2 separate regions of the Homo sapiens genome follow, and region 2 is linked to region 1. The links come from fine-mapping of genetic effects on gene expression. A gene starts in region 1. The other region holds a variant in brackets. All regions are shown on one strand. Distances are from middle to middle.

What was found.
Region 2: its variant is fine-mapped to the expression of ARHGEF17-AS1 in thyroid (GTEx, PIP 0.93).

What each region holds. Positions count from the first base shown.
Region 1 is chr11:73,302,701-73,314,770 of GRCh38, reverse strand. It overlaps ARHGEF17-AS1 (ARHGEF17 antisense RNA 1), which reads left to right and starts at 5,410. Exons shown (of 3, transcript NR_147696.1): 1 at 5,410-6,099; 2 at 6,207-6,889; 3 at 7,215-7,260. It overlaps ARHGEF17 (Rho guanine nucleotide exchange factor 17), which reads right to left and starts at 6,495. Exons shown (of 21, transcript NM_014786.4): 1 at 2,941-6,495. The coding sequence starts at 6,132. RefSeq lists enhancers at 242-421, 4,680-5,500, 5,506-6,383 and silencers at 5,804-6,023, 6,254-6,583, 6,984-7,123.
Region 2 is chr11:73,362,468-73,374,537 of GRCh38, reverse strand. ARHGEF17 (Rho guanine nucleotide exchange factor 17) reads right to left here. Exons shown (of 21, transcript NM_014786.4): 14 at 11,804-12,070; 15 at 11,083-11,332; 16 at 10,705-10,791; 17 at 10,299-10,366; 18 at 9,938-10,086; 19 at 8,974-9,148; 20 at 8,591-8,860; 21 at 5,150-6,954. The coding sequence ends at 6,758. Among named protein-coding and RNA genes, the nearest start is that of RELT, 7.9 kb to the left of the region's middle. RefSeq lists enhancers at 8,023-8,192, 12,040-12,070, 11,984-12,070. The variant G/A (reference allele first, on the strand shown) is at 6,530.

The DNA.
Region 1 (12,070 bases):
AGTGGAGGTAACAAGAGTGTGGGAGGGGCGGGGCAGGGAGGCCTGACAGCTCTGCCTCCTCACCTCCCGGCACACAGACAGGCATTCCTGGAATAAATGACCCATGAGCTACTGTTACTCCCTGTTCTCCTGGGTTCATGCAGCTATTGCAGACAGCTGCCTTTCTCTCCCCTCCAGCCACACCGCTGGCTCCTCCCATTTCACTTGACACCCCCTGCAGGCTGACTCCCTCCTTCTGAGCCTCACAGACCAGGCAGTCTAACCTCCCACTGTACAGATGGGAAAACTGAGAGACAAAGATGACTCTGTCCAGGTCTGAGTGAGTCAAAGGCTGAGCCAGGCCTGGCCCCAGGCCTCCCACTTCCCGGCAATGGGGGCAACACCACACAGAGCACGAATGTGGACCTGAGGGTGAAGGACTCCCTACAGCCTGGGGGGCGGGGGGCATCCCCTTAGTCCCCAGGGACTGCCAGAAGCAAAGAATGACAGCTCCTCTCGTCTCTGCTTATTCTGGAGTCCATACCACGCCATCTCCACCCACGGCCCAGGGAGCATGACTGGAGCCTCAGGCTTGAAACAAGGGAACATTGTCTCCTCAACAGAGGCCACCAGGAGGGGGTGGACAGCTGCTCCCCATATTCTGGGAGCCAGAAGGAAGGGGACAGCAGGAGGGGTTCAAGCTAGCAGATGGGAGAACTTCCAGGCTTTATGAGGGTGTGGGAAATTGGAGGATGATGGATGTTCTCAGAGGCTACTGCAGTCCACCAGGTTATACTGAGGCCCCCGAGGACCCAGCCCTGTGTTCACAAGCCAAGCCTGGTGGCTGAGAAGCAGCTGGGCAGTGCAGCCTCCATTTTTCTTCTTTCCTGCTACCAGAGAGGAAATGATCACACCACCCATTCACCACAAGAGACAGCCTGCCAGGCAGAGGCCATTACCCCCATTTTATGGAAGGGGGAAGTGAGGCACAGAGCAGGGATATGATGGATCCTAGGCCACACAGGGATCAGAAGAGCAAGGCTCACACCCTGCTCTTCTAATGACAGACTCACCAGTTACCTCCCCCTAAGGGGACATCAAGCTGGGCCTGGAAAAGTGAGAGGCCTGGAGTGGGCAAAAGCTTGGAGATCAGAGAAGGCCTCTGTTCGTGGCAGGGAGAAGCCCATGTTATGGCAGATCTGTCCCGCCTCAGAGCTCCAGAAAGGGGTGGGGGGTAGAGGAGAATGTGAAGGGAGGTGGGGCAGGAGAAGTTCTGTAAACTCCCACCTCCTCTCTGGGTCTCAAAGCCTTCTCTTAGAAGCACCCCCAACCCACCTTCAGTCTCCCTGAGTCCCTTGGTTTACTCCTGTCCTCTCCCCCATTTGAGCCTTCAAGGCTCCCAGAAAAGATATATGGGAAAGGAGGCTGGGGAGGAGACCCCTGACAAGAACTGGACCTGCTGTCTTCCTCCCCTCCCCCACCTTCAGAACTGGCACTGGAGTTCAGGGGCACCGGAGCTGCCCTCACTGGGACTCAGAAGGAAGGACAGGTTCAAAACGCCCCGCTCCCCACTCCCTGCCTGCTCTCTCTGCAGCCTCCATGAGAAACCCCAGAGCCAGGACCAGGGGTAACTGGAGACAAGGAGAGAGAAACAAAGAGAAAGGGAGTTCAGAGGGGCCATGAGAGTGCTGGGAAAGGGAGTGACTGAATCAGTCCAGGGTTTATAATTTCCAGGCTTCTCACACAGTCAGGGAGCGCAGTGGGAGCGCAGGCCACAGTTGAAGTAACCACTGGCCATCGCTGAGCTCAGCTCAGAATCCACAGCCTGGAATCTAGCTCCCAACCCAGATGCCAGGGCATATGCCATCTGGATCCCATCTGAATCCACAGCCTAAACTCCAGGGATAGCTGAAGCCAGAAGGTAGAAGGAGGGGTCTCAGGGAGAGTGAGCCCCCAGGGCTGGGGGTCTGGCAGAAACGGGGTGCATCTCAGAGTCACCAAGAAGGGGGTAGAGTGGGGAAAAGATGCAAGCAGACAGGATGGGGGAACAAGAACCGACCCCCCAGACCCATAGAGGCAGCCCTGAATATGGGGCCCAGAACCACTCCTGACCTCTCTAAAGGGCCCTGGCTGCCCAGCCTCTGCAGCCCCCTCCCTGCCTCTATCCTCCCCTAGAAGCCCCCATCTAGAAGCTTTTTTCATCTGAGGAGGCTCTGGCAGAACTCAGGCCCCAAGAGTCCCCAACTCAAAACCGCAGGCTCCCCCAAATCTGCACAGTACCAGCTGGATGGAAACATAGGCACTAGTTTGTCCACCTATCTCCCCTGATTGGGGAGATTAAGTCACAGAGAAAGGCCAATGTCACACAGCAAGAACAGAACTGCAGTTAGAACCCTGAGCCCCCTCTGCTCCTCCATAAAGTAAAGCCTTGTACCTCCCCAATTCTCCCAGGCCCAGGAACACATCTATATTCTGACCTGTCACAGGAAAGCCACACGAAGAAGGGCAAACCCATGTCAACTGTGGCCCCTGAGCCAAACATCCTATCAAGGGTCTGGCCAACAGAGTAGCAAGCCTCAGAGAAAGGACTGAGCCTGCGCTGGGTGCCATCACACTCATCCCTCCAACAAAGAACCACACAGGGATTTCCAAAACCAGTCCCTGAGAAACATCCAAAGGACAAGATAAGAATCCTTTGTAATTACCACCCAGAACACCTGGAGCAGACAAGACCCTTTGCCATTAGCACCAGCAGAAAACTGAAGCTTCTACAGGGCCTGAGTAGACAGGAGCCCTGTGTCATTAACAACTCTTAAAACTGCACAGGCACTTCCAGGACCAGAAAAGCACCCTTGGCACCTGGGCACCTGACCAGTGAATACAATGCAAAAGGCTCCAACCGAAGTCGGTGCCCATGGCCCTTCTTTGGCCCCAATCTGAAGGCCCCTACAAAGGACTCACCACCTGTGGCTTGCTGCAGCACTTGCTGGCAGGGGTAGGCTCATCTGCAGGCCGAGCTGCCTCAGGGGGCTTGGCCTCAGCAGAGGGCGGTGCAGCCAGAGGCAAGCAGGGCATGTCCACTGGCACTGGGGCAGGGACCTCACCGGAGTGCAGGTTCAGCATGTACTGCTTGGTGACGTCCTCGAGCGATGGTGCCTGCAACGTGGGATGGGCTCGGGTAGGGAAGCCTATGGGTTCTGGCACAGCCACAGGGGGACCAACAGAAGTTGGTGGCTCAGGCACCACAATAGGCATAAATGTGGCGGGCACACTGGCATGGCGAACGTGTCTGGAGGAGGGCCGGGCCCGAGACAGGCTGCCAGTCTGGTCCTGACTGCCCTCGTCTCTCCGAAGCTCCTGGTGACTACTCCGAGCTGGGCGCTTCTTGGAGCCTCGGCGGATTAGCCTCGGGGACAGAATGTCAGCCAGCTTGGGGTCAAGGTGAAAGTTTCGGTGGGCAGTGGCAGGGGGAGGCAGAGCCTCAGGTAGGGCCCTTTCAGACTGTGCCCGGCTCCTGGTGGCACCAGGTTCTTCTGGCTCTGCCCGCTGCTCTACAAGGATGGGCTCGCTGCTGGATGGAGGCAGCATGGGCTCAACTTCTCGGATGGGCTCCCCTCCAGGGCCCTCGAATCCAGGCCCAGCCAGCTCCCCACGGCGGCTGGGGTCACTCAGGGATTTCTTCTTGGGGGCTTTGCCAGCAATCCTGTCGTCCACCACACGCCCCAGGGTGCCAGGCCCCTGAACTATGCTCTGAATAACCTCCTGATATCCCTTGCTCTCTTCACTGCCCACAGACCAGTCACTGTGACCACTGGTCAAGCCCTCATCCATGGCTGAGGTGGCAGGGAGCCCTGTCTTGGGGCTCAGTGAGCCCAGGAGGTTGCTGTCCACAGAGAACCCAGTAGGCTCTTCAGAGGTGGCAGCCCGGTGGCGCTGAGGAATTGGGTCACTCAGGGACCTGTAGGCCTCCCCTGCCTCCCCATTGCTCAATTCGCTCCCACCAGAACCTGAAGGTGGGACTTTGCGTCGTCGGCGGAGGGCACCTGGTGTGGGAGGGGTCTCAGGCGACACCAGGGCCCACCCGCCCAGACTGTCCTCAGTCCCAGGGCCATGGTGGTTCGTCTGGGCCGAGGATGAGGAAAGAGGTCGCCACATCCCTGTGGTACCCAGGCCGCAAAATGCTGCAACAGGAGGCTCAGGGTCTGCCCCAATGCCTTCATCTGTCAGACTGGACTCAGGGCCTGAGAGCTCCTCCTGGGACCGCTGCCCTCGGGTCACATCCCCTGCCCAGTCAGGGCTTCCAGGGGGGGCATCGCTTCCATCATCTTGTTGGGCACCCATGCGCTGGATCTTCTCAAAAACCTGGCGGGCCTCCTGCACATATTGGTCCTGGACGATGAGGGGCAGCGGATCCTCCTCGGCACCAGGGCCTGTGAGCAGGAGCTCGGAGGAGCTGGACTTCAGAGCACTGGTGCGGGGCAGGCGGCGGGCCATGGGCTTCTCAGAGCAGGTGAATGACTTTGCTCTCCGCAGAGTGGCTGTCAAGTCCTTGAGTGTGGGGCGCGTGCCAGGTGATGCTGGGGCTGGGATGGGTATGGGTTCAAGTTGCCCCACAGGGCCACCTGCGGATGGTGAGTCTCTGCCATCTAGGGGGTTGCTTCCACGGTCCCCGGAGCTCCCACCAGGTTTTCGGACCCTCAGCTCTGAAAGGTCTGAGCGCAGGAAACTGAGAAGCGTCAGGGTCTCTGAGGCGATATCTGGATTTGACAGGGACTTCCGCTGTCGACTCTTTTCAGGCTCAAATCCTCCATCCCTCAATGCCCTAGAGGTGCCTCCAGGTCCTTTGGCACGGGTTCGAGCCTGGGACCGCAGGAGCCCTTCCCCAGCTCCAAAGCTAGGGGAGCGGTACACGCCCCAGCCCCCAGAACCCCTACTAGACCATAGGTCGTCGTCCTTGAGGGTCTCCGTGCTGGAATAACGGCTGCTACCGCGGGAGCCTGCGGGGCTGGCCAGGTACGAGGGAAAGCTCACCTTGGCCACACGGAAAGCTCCTCCCACAGAGTCAGACATAGGCCGAAGTCCCTCCTGGGGACCTGGGACGCAGGGCGGAGAGCCACTACCCCACTCCCGGAGTCCTTCTTCTCTAGGGGCTCTTGGAGATGTTGGGGGCTCAGGGCTCCCAGAAACCCCTGCTGAGTTCATGCTGCTTAGATTTAACCCATCACTGTCAGGCCTGCAGTCCTGATCCAATAGGGAGCTTCCAGGCCTGAGCCCGGGCCTCCCTCCCCAGCGGTGGCCGCCCTCACCGTCTCGGTCGTCGTCACTGCCCGAGGAGTGGCCGCCGTGGTAGGCCGGACTCTGGGCTCCAGGCAGCTGCGGCGGGCCCTCCTCTTCCTCCTCGCTGGAGCTGGCAGCACGACTGCGGCTGACAGGATAGGAGGCGGCGATGGAGGAGGAGGAGCAGGAGGCCCGGGCCCCGGCCTGCGGTTGGGAGAAGATATGCCAAGAATGTAAACCATCCGCTGGACGCTGCGCCCGCTCCTGTTGCTGCTGCGGCCGGCGCAGCCTCCCTTCGGTCTCCGGCCCGGTCAGGGGCCGCGCCGAACGCAGACCCGCCAGGGGGAAGCATGTCCGAGGGGGTGGCGTCGGTGGCTGCCGCGACTCCCGAGCCGGAGGCTCCCACGCGGCACCGTCGGGGCTGGGCGTTCCTGGGGATTCAGAGTCGGCGCTGGGCCTCCTGGAGCCAGGACCGCCGAAGAGCTTGCGCATCTCGGTGACGCTGGGCCAGGCTCCTCGCGCTGGGCCCTCGGCCGCTTCTTCCGCGGCCGCGGGTAAGACGCCTCCGTCTCGGGTCCCAGCGGAGCCGTCGTCCAGACGCGGCGCGTCGAAGCGCCGGGAGAGCTGGCGAACCGACGGCGAGAGGCTGCGGAGCGGGCGCGGCTGCGCGGGGGCGGCCAGGGGCCCAGACGCCAGCTTGGACACGCGCCGAGAGGGCTGGCCCCGGGCAGCCGTGGTCGGCCGGCACGAGGCGCGTCGCCTCAAGCCGGGGGTGTCCGTGTCCTCCTCCCTCAGCCCGGGGCCGCCGCTCCAGCGCTCCAGCAGCTTGAACGAGACGCTGCGGTAAAGCTGGGGCCGGGGTGCCCCGTCCGCCATAGTGGCGTAACTCACTCCGGGGGGGCTGGCCTCGGGCAGCCGCGGCCAACCCCCCCTGCGCCCCCACTCCCTAGGAGCGCAGCGGCCCACGCCGAAAGCAGCGCACGGGAGTGTGGGAAGAGGACGCAGAGACCGGAGCAGAGGTTTCTCTGCCGCGGCTCAAGTTTCTGTGGCCACCGGCCGCAACGTCTCCATCCCGGGCGGCCCCTCCCGCCTCAGCGCCGACCCCCAGGCCCAGCCCCCGCCGCGGCTGGAGCGACCAGGGGCACCGCGGCACCGCCTGGGCGGGATCCCAGCGCTTGGTTCCTCGACTCTGCGTCCGCCTGCCCAACGCCCTTGGCTGCTCGCTCCTGGCACCCTTTTGTTGCAAATAAACTTTGCGGCAGAGGCAAGGGGGCGGGGGGCGGGGCCTCGCGCCCAAAAGAGGGGGTGGGCTCCGGGCGTGCGCGAGCCTGGGAACCGCGTGGTGGGAGGGAATCAGGGAGGAGCCGAAGAAGAAAAAGCCTGCTGGAGGACTTGCAGACTGAGGCGACCCTCTGGCCCTCCAGAGAGGTCCCTCGGGAGCCCAGCAGGCCGAGCTGCCCCCAGGGAGTCGCTGAGACACACACAACCGCTGAGCGTGCTCAGCTCCGCAGACTCGCAGCCAGGGCGCCGCGTCCACCGCGGGCCACCAGCCTCCGCGCGGAAACACCTCCTGCCCAGGGGCTCCAACATGGCAACCTCGGACTCACAAACTCTCGTACACACTGACACTCAGGTGCACGCAGACGCACACTCTCTGGGCCGGGAAAGGGGTGGGACTCGGCGCCAGGGAGAGCCCGGGGAGCCGCGGGCTAACTGAAGGGTCCGTCGCGCCCTACTCCCCGCCCAGGCCACGCCTCCTCCCCTTCCCTCCCCCTCCCCGCCCGCCCTCTGCGGCGAATTTAGCTGTAGCCACGCCCTTGTCCCCCCATCTCGCTCCCAAGCGCCCCGCCCATCCCACCTCCCAGCCGCCTGTCCGGCTCCGACCGGCCCCCAACCCGCCCAGCGTTGCTCCAGAAGTCCCACCCTTCACGACCGCGCCCCCACCCCTACTTTTCCAGCTGCCACGCCTTCCACCTGCCCCTGCAGTCTGGCGGCTCTTCTCCTGGACTCTCCGCCTGGATCCCCGAGCCTTTTCTTCTTGCTCTGGAGTACGCGGCTCTTGCGCCCCCTCGCGGCGTGATTTTCCCAACGCACGGAGTCCTGGACGGATAAAGCAGCACCCATCCCCCAAAAACGGAGAGTTGTGAAAACTTCCTTTCAGTCGTTACCTAATCCCCTTAGTCTTTTTCAGACCTTCGCAAAGCGCACTGCCCCTTCTTAGGCCTTATACACAAAAGGAGCTTCGACGGGAACGCCCTCGACTTCCCACTGCCAAACCTATACTCTTACCCGCAGCTGCTTCACCTTCTTGGCAGGAAAAGTGTCGGTTGTTTCTCTGGCTTCACGCTGATCCCTCGCTTGAGCTCCCCTCCCGCCCCTGCCTCCGTCTGAGTCTCACATTGTTCTCGGTATTGGGGCATCATCCCCTTCCGCATTCCCACCTGCCTCTAGATCCCATTCATCCTCCCGGCCCAACTAACGAATGAACGAACGAATGAAAATGTATGGAGTACCTATAATGTATGGGCAATATTATTTAACTTATTTTTTAAAATCCACAAACCACCCTTGGGGACAAATATTATTACCCCTTCTCTGTGGACCGTGAAGGAGAAGTAACTTTGACCACTATGCAAGTCAGGAAATAGCAGCTCCTGCTAAAATTCAGATTTCAGGGGCTTCAAACACCATGCTCCTCCAGCCAGCTCTGAGATGCACCCCCAAATCCTGATGAAGAAGGAGGTTCTCGTTCCTTTGAGCCCCCAGTCTCCTCCTTCTCCTCCTTGGGCCTGAGCTCACTCTCCTCAGGAACAGAGGATAACCTGGTCTGACCCATGCCCCTCCAGCGCTGCCCAGCCTTCTTCAGGCCTGGTCAAACTGCCCTGGCCCCTCCAACCCCCAGTAGCAAGGCCTCGGGGACACATAGTTAGGTCAGCAGTCTGTGCATTACCCAGCCAACCCCACTGCCACCAGGTCCAGCCAAGGAGATGTAGCTGGGCCAGACTAGGCTAGGAGACGGGGTTCAGAGGAGAGGGGCAGGCAGGAGGATAGGAAAGGATGGTAGACACCCAGGGATTGCCTGACTACCGAATGAGAGAGAGAGGACTCAGCCGGGACTCCAGAACCTGCTTGCTACTCATATACCCCACAGGATGAGGAGGTCACTCTCCACTCTCTGGGCAGCCTCTTGAGTTGTGGAATATCTCTGTAGCAAGAAAGTGCTTCCTCTCTGTGTTGAGACCAGCATCCAGGGAGTCCCTCACCTCAACCTCATCTCAGCTCTGCCTCAAGGGGGCCAAGGAGTAAATCTCTCCCTTTTCTCTAGGAAATTGATAAAAGAGAGCCCTGCTGGCCTGTGCCTCTCTGTTCGGCCTTACTCTGTGACCTTGGGTAAATCCCTGCACTTGCTGGTGTCTGAAAAGTGAGGAGTGGGGTGTCTGAAAAGTGAGGAGTGGTTCAGGTTCCCCAAGAGTGCCCTCTCTGGCTCTGGCATTTGATGTCAGACTCTCACCTCCTTTAGTATTTTCTTTCTGCTCTTTGGGGCAAGTTTTGGTGTGTGCTGTGGGGTGAGTTGTGGAGGGGTGAGTTGGGGAGGGGTGAGTTGTGGAGGGGTGAGTTGTGGAGGGGTGGGTTGTGGAGGGGTGGGGGACAGGACTCTCATCCCAGGAGTCACTCTCTCCCCCCATAATGATGACTCTTACTATCTGAAATTTGTACTTTTCCACCTCCCTGTCAGTTCTGGGACAGAAACCCTTATCCCATATCACAGATGGGCAAGTGGATAGAGAGGAGTGGAGGTTCAGGTCATGGGCTCCCAGAGTCCTGTGGCTTGGCCTTGAGGTGAGCTGGCTGGGGCCTTTGGCTCAGGAATCCCCTTGGTGGGGAGGGGGGTGTTTAAGGATCTAGACTGGGTCTCTGTCCAAAGGGAAGCTCACCCAATCTGAGAGTGGCTTGATTGCTTCCAGTGCTTCAGGAACCCTCCCACCCCCAGCTCCTTATGATCCAGTATAAGACAAAGTTATCTTCCATGAACAGAAGAGATCTGGAATTTTAATGGTGCTTGGTAATTATGTACAGCAATTTTTAGCCCCAAGAAGACTTATTTGATAGGGGGCTGGGAGCACTGGGCACCAGAGTGGAGAGAAACCCTACGCTGGGGTTTTGAAGCCAGGCTCACCTTCCGCAGCTCACCCCCTTTTCTCTGGGCCCCAGGCTCCTCACCTATGAAAGGGTAATGAAAACAATAGCCCATCTACCCAGTGAGTCATGGTGATCTAGTGAGGTGAGGACCGTGGAATCCCTTGGGGAAATCAAGATGGGAAGGTTTTGAAGGTCACAGGTCATGGCCAGTGATGGGCTTTGGTGGGCTTCGGGTACAGATAAGTCCCCAGCTCATGATATTTCAACTTAATGATTTTTTGACTTTATGATGATGCAAAAGCTATGTACATCCAGTAGAAACCATACTTTGAGCACACATATAATCATTCTGTTTTTCACTTTCAGTATTCAATAAATTACATGAGATATTCAGCATTTTATTATAAAATAGGCTTTGTGTTAGATGATTTTTGTCCAACTCTAGGCTATGGAAGTGTTCTGGGCCTGTTTAAGGTGGGTTAGGCTAAGCTCTGATGTTTGGTAGGCTAGGTGTATTAAATGTCTTTTTGACTTATAATATTTTCAGTGGGTTTATTGGGATGTAACCTCATCGTAAGTCGAGGAGCAACTGTACTTAAGAGGGAGAGAAATGATGAGTGCGGGGACAAGAAGCAATGAGCTCCATGAAGGAGCTGTCTTAGGGGGAAATCTGACTCTTCTGACTCCATTGCAAAGCCAAATAGAAACTATCTGAGATTGCCCCCTTTCCTATATAATTAGACCTTAAGCACACAGGATTAAATTCTTTATAATATTTTGATAATGATACATTCTCATCAGTTATTTAATTGGCTTTCGCCAAAAAACAAAACAATACAACTAGGACCTTTAAAATAATTCACATCTCATTATACAGTTCTTCTGCTCCCATCCTCCTGCTGTCCCACCACACAGAAAATCAGAAAATCATCATCTCAAATCCTGTGTTCAGCATTCTCTTGCTTTCCTTCAAACATATTCCTTCAAACTATATATTCCTTCAAACTATATCTTTTCATTTTAGTTGTTCTTAACTTTATAAAAAAAAAAAAGGCATCCTGCTGGACGTGGTGGCTCACGCCTGTAATCCCAACACTTTGGGAGGCTGAGGCGGGTGGATTGCTTGAGGCCAGGAGTTCAAGACCAGCCTGGCCAACATGGTGAAACCCAGCCTCTGTTAAAAATACAAAAATTAGCCAGGCGTGGTGGTGCATGCCTATAATCCCAGCTTCTTGGGAGGCTGAGGCAGGAGAATCACTTGAACCCAGGAGGTGGAGGTTGCAGTGAGCCAAGATCACACCACTGCACTCCAGCCTGGGCAACAGAGCAAGACTGTCTCAAAAAAAAAAAAAAAAAAGGAGGGGGGTTTCTTGCTTTACAAAATTTGTTGGGACTTCTTTTTTCTTAATATTAAGAAAAGATTTACCCATATTGTTGCATGCCTCTATACTCCATTCTGGCCATGTGGACTATTTCAGTGTGTGACTATATCACAGTGTGTTGATCCAGTGTCTTGCTGATGCACATTTGGGTGTTTCCAGGTGTTTGCTGAGCATTGTGCATGACTCCAGGTACACATGGACAGAAGTGCTTGGGCATAGGGCAGGCAATTGATCAACATTGGGAAGCATTGTCAAGCTGGGATCTAATTTCTCGTCTATGTTTTTTAATCATCTGTGTTTCCTTTTTTTTTTTTTTTTTTTTTTTTGAGACGGAGTTTCTCTCTTATTGCCCAGGCTGGAGTGCAATGGTGTGATCTTGGCTCATTGCAATCTCTGCCTCCCAGGTTCAAGCAATTCTCCTGCCTCAGCCTCCCAAGTAGCTGGGATTACAGGTGCATGCCACCACGCCCAGCTAATTTTTATATTTTAGTAGACACAAGGTTTCACCATGTTGGTCAGGCTGGTCTCAAACTCCTGACATTGTGATCCGCCCATCTCAGCCTCCCAAAATGCTAGGATTACAGGCATGAGCCACCACGCCTGGCCTTGTGTTTCCTTTCATATGAAGTGCTTATTTGTGCCTCTTGCTCATTTTTCTATTGGGTTATAGTATGTTTAGTACTTTATGAAATTTCTGCTCTAACTTTTCTATTCCTCGGTATCCCTGGTGGCTTAGGAAGGTCTAGTATTTTACAGGTAAGGAAACAGAGGCTCAGAGGAGTGAAGGTGCTTGGTCAAAGTCACAGACTCTGTTGCAGCCCTTCTGCACTGAGCTAATGCCTTCTGAGGCCTTCTGAGGCTCTAGGCCTCACTCAGATACATTTTCTGCCCCTCAACTAGGTCAGGGCCCCTCTGGTATTTAGCATTTCTTGGCCATGGACCATTCCAGGAGCTCATCATCTCCCTAGTGATACCTTCCTTGCCTGGGTCCTCTTTATGATCTGAGCTCTCTTCCCCAGCTGTAATGATCCAGGTCTGTATATGTTTCATTATTACCTGTCTCCTCCATCAGACTAGGGGCTCCCTGAGGGCCCAGCATGATGCTTGGCATATAGGAGGTGCCCAATAAGTATTGTTTACTGGATGAACTGTTTCCTTGTCTGCATCCCAAACCCCTTGGATTCTTTCCCAAGACTAGGGCCTGGACCTGAGCTCGTCTCAGAAACACAGAGTCAATATTCATTGAACAAATGAATGAGGGAGGAAGAGGCCAGCTTTGTCCATTGCTAGGA
Region 2 (12,070 bases), 60 kb before region 1:
CTCCTGGGGCCACAGCCCAAACACTTCTCGCTCCTGCAACCCCCAGGTTAGGAGGGAGCCTAATTATTATTTACTGCTGGGTGGATGCGCCAGCTCCTCCTGCAGCCAGCTCTGACCCTGAAACCACTGTGACGTGGGCTCCTCCCTGAGAGTCTACCAGCATCTGGGTTGCTCCACAGTGAGTAGACAGGGAAGGAGTTGTGGAAGCCACAGGAAAGATTTAGACTCGCTTTTTATGGAGCTTGGGGAACCACAGGCTTGAGAACAAAGGACTCTCAGAATCACAGGCTTTATAAAATCCTGGCATCTCAACTGAACCCATGGAGTCAGCACTGGAATCCCTGAGCTCAGGGACCTCAGAGACCATCTTGTTGAACTTCACATGGTACAGCTGGGCAAGTGGGCCCAGAGAATGTGTGCACCTCATTGTAGGTACACAGCACAAGGTCCCAGTAAACTGGGACGAGCTGTGATGGGGACCTGGAGGCAGGGGTACAGGTGCCATGCCCCAGCCAGGCCCTGCCTGGGGTGGGGATCCTGGGTCACAGAATCAGAGCCACCACAGTGTGGCTGTATGCAGGGGTCTGAGTAGATGACTGCCTTGGAGTCATGGACCAAAGGTAGTGGGTGCCACTCTGCTTGCTGGCTGTGCTAGAATTCCAAAAGGAAGTACATACAGTACAAGCCTGGAGGAACAGCAGGCTCATACTTAAATTTCAATGCTCCAGGCCAGGCGCGGTGGCTCACGCCTGTAATCCCAGCACTTTGAGAGGCCGAGGTGGGCGGATCACCTGAGGTCAGGAGTTGTAAACCAGCCTGGCCAACATGGTGAAACCCCATCTCTACTAAAAATACAAAGAAAAAAAAATTAGCCAGGTGCGGTGGTGGGCGCCTATAATCCTACCTATTTGGGAGGCTGAGGCAGGAGAACTGCTTGAACCCGGGAGGTGGAGGTTGCAGTGAGCCAAGATTGTGCCATCGCACTCCAGTCTGGGCTACAGAGCGAGACTGCGTCTCAAAAAAAAAAAAATAAAATTCAATGCTCCATCCTAGGCTAACCCCCAGCGGGCCAAGTCCTAACCCTAAGAAGGTGGGCTGCTGTCCTGTGTTTGTGTCTTAGCTCCAGGGGAGGGTGGGCTCAGTCTGAGGGGAAACTGAGGCTAGGAGGCCAGGATAGGGCTCAGCCTGGGGCCAGGCCAGAAGCTGAGCTGGGGCTGTCTGGGTCTGAGGACCAGGTTCAACCTGCATTTAGGTCCAGACCCTGGCCTGGGTCTGGAATCCCACTGGGGTGGAGGTGTCAAGTCTTTGGTGACTGCCTCACTGGCTCCCTCATGGGAGGCCCAGCACTCTCAGTTCCATCCATCCCAGGTTCTATTGCCCACCTGACTGGTGCTCAGGGAGGCAAGTGTAGGGTTTTCTTGTTCCCATGGTGAGTCTGAGAGAGGAACCCAGAGCCATGAACTGCAGACAATGGGGCTGGTGGGGACCCTGGGGACTGTCAGGGTGAGACTTGCAGTCCAGTTACCCTCTGGGCCCAGAACATGAGCAGGTCAAGAGCTAGGGAGTGTGAGCCAAGCCCAGGGAGGCAGGTGGCTTGCTGAAGCATCTGAGATTAAGGAGCCTGGAGAAGAGAAATCTAGGGGAAAATGGAAGAATATATGCTTTGGTGTCACATGGATAGTGGTTAAGTCCCACTTCTGCCATTGCCAGGCTGTGTGACCTTAGGCAAGTGACTTCACCTCTCTGAGAACTCGCCCATCCAAGCGTGTTATGAGGATCTGCTGAGACCTCATATCGGGGGCACCAGCTTCTTCCAGGACGCTGGGCTCAGGAGCTCTCTCTCCTCTCCCTTCCCTTGGTGCACTGTTTGCCCTGGGCAGCAGGGGCTCTGCCCGATTTATCCCTGATGCCTGCTCACTATCTCCCTCCCCAGTCCAGCCCAGCAAACTACCTCTGACCCAGCTTGGGATGCCAGCTCACTTGCCTTTGCCAGGCAGGACTCCTCATTGGCTATAATTGGGCCTAAAATAGACTTCCCCTTGCCGTTTCCTGCAACCTGGCCTGTGGCTTAAGGTCTGTGAGGACACAGACTTGGTGTTTGGCAGGCATGCAGAAGATGTAAAGGGCTCACAGAGGTCATCCAGGTCTATGGAGGGACAGACACTCGCCTGGCATCACACAGTGCCGAGAGCCTGGGCTGGAGCTTGAGTTCAAGCCCTGGGGTCCCCCATGCCCTCCCCAGGCCCTGCCCAGAAGGTTTAAGGTAAGGCCTTAGCCAGACTTGCTCCCTCCAAGCCCTCTGGACCAGCCCAGTGCTGAGGCTGGTTTGAGGTGTGTGACGGGGCCCCTGGAGGCCAGCTCGTCTAGCCTTCTGCCTCCCCTGGCTTTAAGGGTCATTTCCTGGCTTTTCTGACCACAGGAAACCTTCCTGCCTGGGCTCTCCTCCCCAGCTACCCCCAGCCTCAATGTTGCCTTTCTGTGTGACCTCAGGTAAGTTCCTGACCCTCTCTGTGCCTCATCTTTTCCATTAGATAGATGGTCTAGCTAAACCCTGACCCCTGTCCCAAACCCAAGGGACCACCTGGAGAACTCCCTTGAAGAGGAGATGGCCTCTGGCTTTGACTCTCCTCACTCATCTGGGATCTGGATCCCCTTCCCAGGGCTGGTCTAAGGAACATTAGTCCAGCCTCATGAGTGACTACATGTGACTCTGGGTGCTCAGGCTGTCTCTCCTGTCCTCCAGCCACACCAGGCCAGCCCTCCTCTTCCATGAGATACAGAGACCTGAGCAGACAGATTCCAGGTTCTATCAATTAGTGGTTAGGTGACCTTGAGGAAGGCATCTAACCTCTCTGAACCTCAGTTTCCTCATCTGAAAAGGAGGGTAATAATGGTATCAACCTCCCAGGACCATTGTGAGGATTCGAGATGATCCATGCTCCTGGCTTGCAGCAAACACTAAGTGGAAGCTGGGTTTATTGTTTCGTGGCATTCAAGACCTAGAGTTGGTTCTCACCTGAATTCTCCAGATTTAATTCAACAAATATTTACTGAGCATCTACTGTGTGTCACGCACTGTGGCAGGCCTGGGGATGGAACAAAGAACAAAATCCCACGCTCACGGAGCTCCCAATCTAGGCGCCCCTGCCTTTTCCTCTTTCCCCATCCACCTGGGCCTGCACCAGGCTCCTCTACCCCTCCTTGCCTTGGTTTGAGCTGTTCTTTTTTTTTTTTTGAGACAGAGTCTCCCTCTGTCACCCAGGATGGGGTGCTGTGTAACCTCGGCTCACTGCAACCTTGGCCTCCTGGGTTAAAGCAATTCTCCGCCTCAGCCTCCCAAGTCGCTATGACCACAGGTGCACGCCACCACGCCTGGCTAACTTTTGTATTTTTTGTAGAGATGGGGTTTCTCCATGTTGGCCAGGCTGGCGTTCCCTCTTAACATCAAACCCAAGCCCCACTTTCCCCCACACCAGTGGCTAACCATAGTCATTCCCTTTACAGCAGCAGTTCTCTACCTTGGCTGGTGAAGCTAGATCATGGTGTCAGAAGCCGGGGTGGTGGTTACCCTTGGAGGGCAGACCAGAAGGAGGTCTAAGGGGAGCTTCTGGGGTGATGAGATTTTCTGTTCCTTGACCTGGGTGTGTTCACTTTATGAATACCCATCACGCTGGGTCCTTTTTTATGTCCTTTTTTGTATAAATGTTATACTTCAACTAAAGGTTTCTGAAAAACATATAGACACCTGGGTCCCACCCTCAAAGTTCAGATTTAATTGGCTTGGAATTGGCCTAGGCCCTCATGATCATAATGTGCATCCCAGGCTGAGAACCACTGCTTCAGAGGAGGTAATCCTTCCAGGAGCCTCCCCTGGGCCGGGAGCCTGGGGTCTGATGCTCATTCCAGGGCCTCCCTGCCCACAGCTGATGGGGTCCGGGCTGTCCACAGGCTGGCCAGTGCCCTGGAATGTGGGCCTCTAAGTAACAGTGGGCTGGGCCAAGCCCATTCTTACTGAGGCACTTGAGTCGGGGAAGTGGTGAGGATCTGGTCTTGGGTATCTTGTGCTAAAACTGAAGTCTGCCCAGGGTCCTCCGAGTGGAGGAGGCGGAGGCCCTGAGGCAGCAGAAGCTGGAAAGCAGTGGAACAGCAACTGACTGGCAGTGTGGGAGGCACTGGCGACTCAAGTGGAGAGGCCAGATGTCCTGAGATGCAGCTCTGATGTCTGGGCCACAGTGCCCTGTGACAGCTCCTTGCTGCCAGCTCACATCTTCACTAATAAGCACCCTTCTAGTTCACAAGCAAAATGAATCTCTTTCTTGCAATCCAAAGACCTGTGCACGCCAAGCAGCAGTCCTGTTCGGGAAGGGATCATCAGCCTCATTTCACACGTGAGGAAATGGAGGCTCAGAGGGGATACAACTTGCCCAAAGGCACATAGCTAGTTAGCGGCAAAGTCAAGATCTCAAACAAGGTCTGTCCAGCTTCAAAGCCTGTGTTTCTTCTAATGCTTTGTTTCGTTATATATTCCACATGAATGATGCCTCCTACTCCATAATATATCTGTGCTTATTAATAGAATCCCTTCCTCCCCAGATAGCCCCAGTAAAATGATGCTGCACGGAGACGGTCCATGCCCGTCCTGTGGTGTTGAGGACCCAGCAGACCCCTGAGAGGTGTGCTGCCAGTTTGCAGAGCATGAGCTTGCATGCCCCTTCAGGGGCTGACTCAAAAGTCAGTCATTTAGGCTGGAAACGTTCGTGCGTGTAGCAGAGCTGAGGCACGACATGCCTTCTAGTGATGGCCACCTCTAGTTCTGCAGGTGCACTCTGGTCTGGAGGGCTCTCTGTCCTTGCACAGAATAGTCCCATGTTGCTGGGCCTGTGCGTTCTTGTGTCTGATTTAATGACAGACCTCTTCAGACCAGAAATCAGACAGACTTGGATTCTATCCCTGCTCCAAACACTTCAGAGGGTTGGAGCAGGGCCTTGGCCTTCATCAGGGTTCTCCAGCTGAGGCTTTGCTGGAGAACATTGTTTCCTGGAGGAGCCGTAGACAGGCTCAACAGGGGTCCTGGCTCTTTACCTGGAGCATGTCAGCTTCAGATTCCCAAGCTCCATCCAGGCCCACTGACTCAGAAGCTCTCAATTAATACGTAAATAAGTTACGAATCATGTTTCTGCATTTACATGTCATCTGCAAGGGATTCTACCATGTAACCCTGGTTACAAAGCACTGAACTGGTACAACCCCTTTATTTTCCTGATGAGGAAACTGCAGCCCAGCCACCTGCCCAGGTAACACAGCAAATCGTGGCAACCTCGCCGTCCAGCACTCTTCTGGGTCTCCAAGGCCTCCCTTCTTCCCAAGTGTGTGGACGTCGGAAGGCCCATGTGGCCAGGGAGACTGAGCCCTGAGGTTGCTGACAGGAGGCCACTGTGGCCACCAATGCAGTCATCTGGTGTTTCTATTTATTGACTCTTTAAACTTCATCATCCAAAGAGAGTTAATACATGACTGTTTGGTAGCAAGAGAAACATAATCTAAGACCGCAATGACCCACCCACCCCAAACAAAACCAAAACCAAACAGAACAAAACAAACCCCATCTGAAACCAAACCTTTGGAGTTTTAGCTGAAGAAGCGAGGGGGCTGAGGGTCAGAGTGGCTCTCTGTGGTCCAGGGGGTCAGGTAGAGGCTGCTCTCAAGTGGGAGCCTTCTCTGTTGAAAAGGCTACATTCAGCCCCTCAGCTTTGGGGGGTCCTTCCTGAAGGGGCTTCCCTTGGCAGAAGGGGTGTGGAGACGGATTCAGTGGTCAGAGGGGCTCCTAGGTCTGCCCTCCAAGGTGACCATATGTGCCAGTGCATGAGACACAGGGAAGCAGGGCCAAGGACTGGGGGCGACTGTGAGGAGATCATGGGCCCATTTCTCCTACCTGAGAGAAAGCCCTGTCCAAGGCCCCATCAGTGTTCCCAAATTAGGGAACCACTAAAGGCACCACCAACAAACTGGGAAATGACAAAGCCTGACAGGTCCCCAGATGGCAATCACTGCCCCCTAATAGTCAGCATCTTGATCTAGAGGACTGAGGGCAGCCCCATCAGGCTGGGGCCCTGGAAAGTTTATGTCAACGGGCAATGTTTAGGGCCTTGGACATGCAGTGTGCGTACGTGTGTGTCTGTATGAATGGAATGGGGCTCAGGGGCGCATGGGTCCCTCCAGGAAGGCTTGGTTAGAGTCCCAGGGTGGTCCCCAGGGCAGGAATAGGTTTCTTTTCCTCATGTCATTTCCTCAAATCACCCCCACCCCAGGTGACCAGGTCACTGCATAAATAAGTGCTTGGGAAGGTACACATCTAAAAAGAAACATAAATACTGTACATGGGGAATTCCCCAGCCTTCCTGCTGCCCTCCAGAAAACCCTCCAAATATTGCACATGGCCCTCCCCAGCCCCGTGGGGTCCAGACCCAGCTGTGTCTTTGGTAGAAGCTCCAGGGTCAGAGGTCCTGGTCAGCCCACATGTCCCCCACCC[G/A]ATCATGACTGGAAGCACCGGGGCAGCCAGAGGGTCGGGAGAAGCCATGGCCTGGCTGGCCAGTGGGTGTTCCATCAGGAATGCTTCCGCGAAGACAAGGCAGAGCCCACGCAGGCACATGTGTGCCCCTGGCTGGATACTCCTGGTCAAAGTCTGCGTGTGGGCTAGGGAGAGGCAAGCAGGCTGAAGGCAGGTGGGCGGGCGAGTCCTGGGCCACGGCAGACAGGGTCACACCCTCCACAGGAGGAGGTGGTTTGTGCTGTCGTCTCGACCCACAGTCTCACTGCTGCTGCCGCCCCCACTGCTGAGTCGGAAGTCCTCATAGCCATCACCTCCACTGATAACCAGCATTTTAGGCCTGGCAGGGGCGGGGCCTCGGTGCCAAGGGGAGTCCCGGTGCTCCAGTGATGGCAGCTTCTCGGGGCCTGGGGGCAGAGGGGAGGATCTGTCAGCTTGGGGGCGAATGGAGGCTTCACTGTCCCATCGGGGCCTGAATTCCCACACCCCAGAAGATAGGAAGGAAGATGTGCACACTTCCTATGGGGGAATCCCACTTTCTGTTAGCTAGGAACTTATTTAGAAAGAAATGCCCACTTCTTGGCAGCCAGACTTCTTATGTCCCATCTGTAATCTCTAGTCAGGAGTCACATAATTTCCCAAGGTGACGCCACTTCTGATTTTTTTCTTTTTACAATGTAAGTGCCCTGTAAGATGCCACTTTCTATCTCTCTTGATTACTGCACGCAACGTCCTTGCATTAAATAAGCCTCCTACTTCCAACAGCCCTTTCCCAGGTAGCTTAAGTCTTCTGTGAACCCAGACAACTCCTGACCCGAGGCTTTATTGCTTCCTGATTTCCACAGCCACTTCCTCTTGGGAATATCATTTCTTGTCCTGCCAAAGCAAGACTTTTCTGGTTGTGGCCTCCTGATGTACCTCATTTCCTGCTGTTTCACTTTTTTTTTTGAGACGGAATTTTGCTCTTGTTGCCTGGGCTGGAGTGCAATGGCACATACTCTTGGCTCACTGCAACCTCCGCCTCCCTGGTTCAAGTGATTCTCCTGCTTCAGCCTCCCGAGTAGCTGGGATTACAGGCGCCCGCCACCACACCCAGCTAGTTTTTGTATTTTTAGTAGAGATGGGTTTTCACCATGTTGGCCAGGCTGGTCTCGAACTCCTGACCTCAGGTGATCCACCCCCTTCAACCTCTCAAAGTGCTGGGATTACAGGTGTCAGCCACCACGCCCGGCCATATTTTTATTTTTATTTTTTTGAGACAGGGTATCACTCTGTCACCCAGGCTGGGGTGCAGTGGTGCAATCTCTGCTGACTGCAGCCTCGACTTCCCTGGGCTCAAGTGAGTCTCCCACCTCAGCTCAGCCTCCTGAGCAGCTGGAACCACAGGTGTGTGCCACCACACATGGCTAATTTTTGTATTTTTTGTAGAGATGGTGTCTCACCATGTTGCCCAGGCTGGGTCCTGAACTCCTGGGCTCAAGCGATCCTCCCACCTCATCCTCCCAAACTGCTGGGATTACAGGTGTGAGCCACCGCGCCTGGCACCCGGCTGTTTCACTTTCTAATTATCAGTCCATTTTCTGTGCTAGTGCCATTCTATGTTGTTTTCTGTTGCTATTTCTATTTCCTGCTCTGTGCATCACTTCCTGATTCCACTTCCTGCCCTATATATCATTTCTAGTCCTGTGCTATTTCCTGGTGCATATAGGAAATATATACAACAGGACATATTTTCTATATACATATTCTATTTGTGACATATTCTACCTCTTAGGTTATAGTTCCCTCCCTGTCTCTCATGACATTTCTCTGGATAGAACTTTATATACACACAACACATGCAGGTGCGCACACACACACACACACACACAACTATCCTAGATTTCATTTGGACACTTCCGTGGTGTATTTCCTGTCACATATGCCACCTCCAGCTCTATGTGACACTTTTCCTCCCTCTTGAAAGCTCTTCTGGCAGGATAGTGGGGAGTCCTAAACCAAATGTCCATGATCCCTAGCTTGGGGTATGATGCACTGACCCACCTGTGTCTGGGGGAGGTGGTGGGGTTGGGCAGAGCAGGTTGAAGCCATCTGGCAGCTGGACTGCAGCCAAGAAGCGGACGTGGCCGGTGTGTCCCTGGCCGAGGCCTGTGGGACTGAGTGGTGCCCGTGGGCAGCTGACAGTACCGGGCGAAGTGGGCATGGTGAGGACGACACCAGCACTGGTGCCCACCCACAGCAGCTCCTCACACACCAGCAGCGCTGTGATTCGCAGACAGGCAGCCTTGTGCTGCCGGATGATGGCATCCGAGCCTGGGGTGGGAGACAGACCACAGCTGGGGCTGAATTCTGGCCCTGGCTCAGCCGCCTCTACGATCGGGCAGAAAGGCTCCAAGGAGGGTGCTGTGGTAGTTTGAGGTCAGTACCTGCCAGCATCCTGTGCACGGGAGGAGTGACGTCTACTTCTGCCAGCTGCTCAAAGGTGTCTGGATGGTAGAGACACACGTGGGCACTACCTTTCAATGTCACCCACACACCCAGGCTGGAGTCCACCATGCAAGCCACGCAGCGGCTTGAATCCTGACCCACGTAAAACATGTGCTGGGGAAGGCGGGGGAGAAGATGGGTCATTGGCAGGCCTGCCTCCCTTGGCCCACCCTAGCCTGGAGCTTCACCAGTGTCCATCCCTCACAACTCACACTAGCGTTGGTCCTTGGTCTGATTAACCTTTCGAAGCTTGGTTTCACCAGCACCTCCCAACTTAGTTCTCAGGAATTACAATGGAGGTGCTTTTTCCCCATTAAACTTGAGTGATTTAAGGATCAGAGAACTTCAATGCTTAAAGGGTTCTAAAATCAGTCACTGGCCTCCCCCTGGACAGGTGGGGAAGCTGAAGCCTAGAAGGGAAAGGTCACACAGCAAGTCAGTCACAGAGCTGGGGCCTGAACCCAGGGCTTTGGACTCCTGCCCAGCCAACAATGGAATAAGTGAGGGAAATTAAGGGAACCCGTTGCCCCTGGATACTTCTGACATGTGTGCAAGTGACATGTGCAGCAATAAATGCCAGAGTCTAATGCTAATGGATGTTGACATCAGAAAGGACTCTTGTCCTATCCCCAAAGGACCCTAAAACCTGAGTTGAGAGATAGGGTGGGCAGGAGGATGAATAAGATTCCTAATGTATATGGGACACTTACTGTATTCCTCATCAGCTACAGAAGAAATGAGGATCGAAGGAGGACAGGGACTGGCCAGCGTCACTCTGTGGTCAGAGGAAGGCCCTAGCCCTCTGCTGGATGCTGCTTATGCCCCTACCATGGTCTCCATCTCCCTGTCACACGGACCTAGCTCATCCCATGGCACCAATTCCATTCCCCCACCCCCTGCTACCTCCAGCTGCAGCGTGTCAGGGCTCAGGACAAGGACTCGGTTCTGGCAGCCACACCACAGCCGCCCACCCACAGATACCATCTTGGTGATGGGGCTCCCCTGGGTGCCCAAGGTCACTGATTTGAAGTTCTGGGGGTCCCAGAAATGGCCTGGAGTGGGGTAAAGAAAACAGGAAATTCACTCCAGTTCTAAATTTGAGCCTCGGTCTCCCCTGAAATGAGATGTTAACATTCCCCTTTTATAAGCAAAGAAACCAAGGCCCACAGAGGGCCTGGGAGTTGCCCAAAGCCACATCTCCAGGAGAGAGCCCCAACACCAGTAAGGGGACAGGGGCAGGGTGTGGGGGAGGGCAGATACTCACCTGCTTCCCTTTGGTAGACCACAAGCTCTCCATTGGCCAGAGACACAAACACCTGGTTATTCAGATACCTGGGTAGGGAAAAGAGGAAGCAGTAAGGGAGTTCAGGCAGCCAAAGTGGGTCACCCAGGACCAGGGGAACCACAGATAGAATGGGTATGGCTCCCGAGAGGCCACCTCTTCCCACCCCTTGTTCTCCAGGTGGGGGTTGCCTGAGGCTAAGAAAAGGGGGTGACTTGCCCGAGCTCACACAGTGTGTAAGAGGCACAGCTAGCCTAGGGCCAGGCCTCTGGCTTCCAGCCTCCACACAGAGGAGGGACAGTAGAGCAGGGGGACCAGATGAACAGAAGGAGGCCTGCACGTGTGGCTGAGAAGAGTCTAGATAGGAAGGGCCACCCTGGGGCCTTACAAGATGCAGGTCACAGAGGCCGCATGCTGGAGCTTCATGCTGTTCCTGCGGTCACGGATGCTGTCGGAGGACTGGTACACGTGGACACTGTGGATCGGGGTATGCACCTGGGACAAATGCTTGGGGCACACCAGCCCCTGGAGTCATCCCTCCACCTCTTTGCCCCTAGCACCACGTCTTCAATGCTGGGTGCCTGCCCAAGGTACTGAGGTCCCACAGCCTCCCTGGGATTGTCAGACCCACTGACATCCCTGGTCAGCAGTACCCCTGAGGTGTGACCCAAAGCCCTCCTGCCTTGGCTCCAGGGGACCACATGATTTCCAGAGCAGGGAGCTCAGAGTTCTGGCACTGTGTCCCTAGTCCCTCCCCTGTCCCTACCAGCCATCCTCAGTGCCCAGCCACACGGAGCTCTGGTAGGCCTCAGGGTCGACACTCAGCAGGTCCTCAAGGCTGCCCCGGGTGAAGGAGCCGTGGCTGGAGCGGCGAAGGGCTCTCCCATCCATTGGGCTGGTGCCGCAGGGACCACCAGGCCCAAAGGAGCCAGACAGTGGCAGGAAGCCTGGCTCCTGCTCCTCCTCTGAGCTGGTGGTCTCTGCCGTGGCCTCCTTGGAACTCGGGGTCTCCTCATCTGAGGGAGACAAAGGTCTCTGTCTCCATTTCCCTCTGCCAGGCCTGGGACCTGATATCTTTCTAGGCCATGCATCCCTCCTGGCCATGCCCCTCCGGAAGGCCTCTCAAAGCTGTTCTTCCCCGGCCTGCTCCGGTCTGCTGCCCTGCTGCCCTGCTCACCGACAGCTCAGCACTACAGAATCCTTGATCTTGCCTGGCCCCTCAGACCCAGTGGCCACACCGTGGGTCCCCACTCCACCAGCACCCCATCTTCCTTAGCTGAGTGCTCCAGGGTCTTCATGATCCCGCCTGACTGTCCCACTGTCCTCTGGATCCTTGGTGTCACATCCCCTGCCCTCATTGCTCTGTGTGCTAACATCCTGAGGTCTGACGCCATGCCTTTGCCCTACACTGGTCCCTCCTCTCCCCCTCCTCTGGGCAGTCCACCCTGCCTGCCAAGGCCAAGTTGGAGGAGATGGCCAAAGCTCACTGCCAAAGCTGGAGGAGATGGTGGACCGGCTGGCCTGGCTCTGCAGCGTCCCCGAGGGGCTGGGCGAAGACTCATCGTCAGAGTCACTGTCAAAGGGCACCAGCTCTGGGCGGGGGTCACCCTCGCCGAGGCCCGGCGTCATCTCCAAGCCCGAGCCTGCAATGGAGATGTGAAGGCAGGGCTGCGGCCCCGGCTCCGCGAGCGTCGCGGCTTCCTCGTCTGCAGCGGCCTCGACGTCCAGCTCCGGCCCGGCGGGCTCCGGTGCCG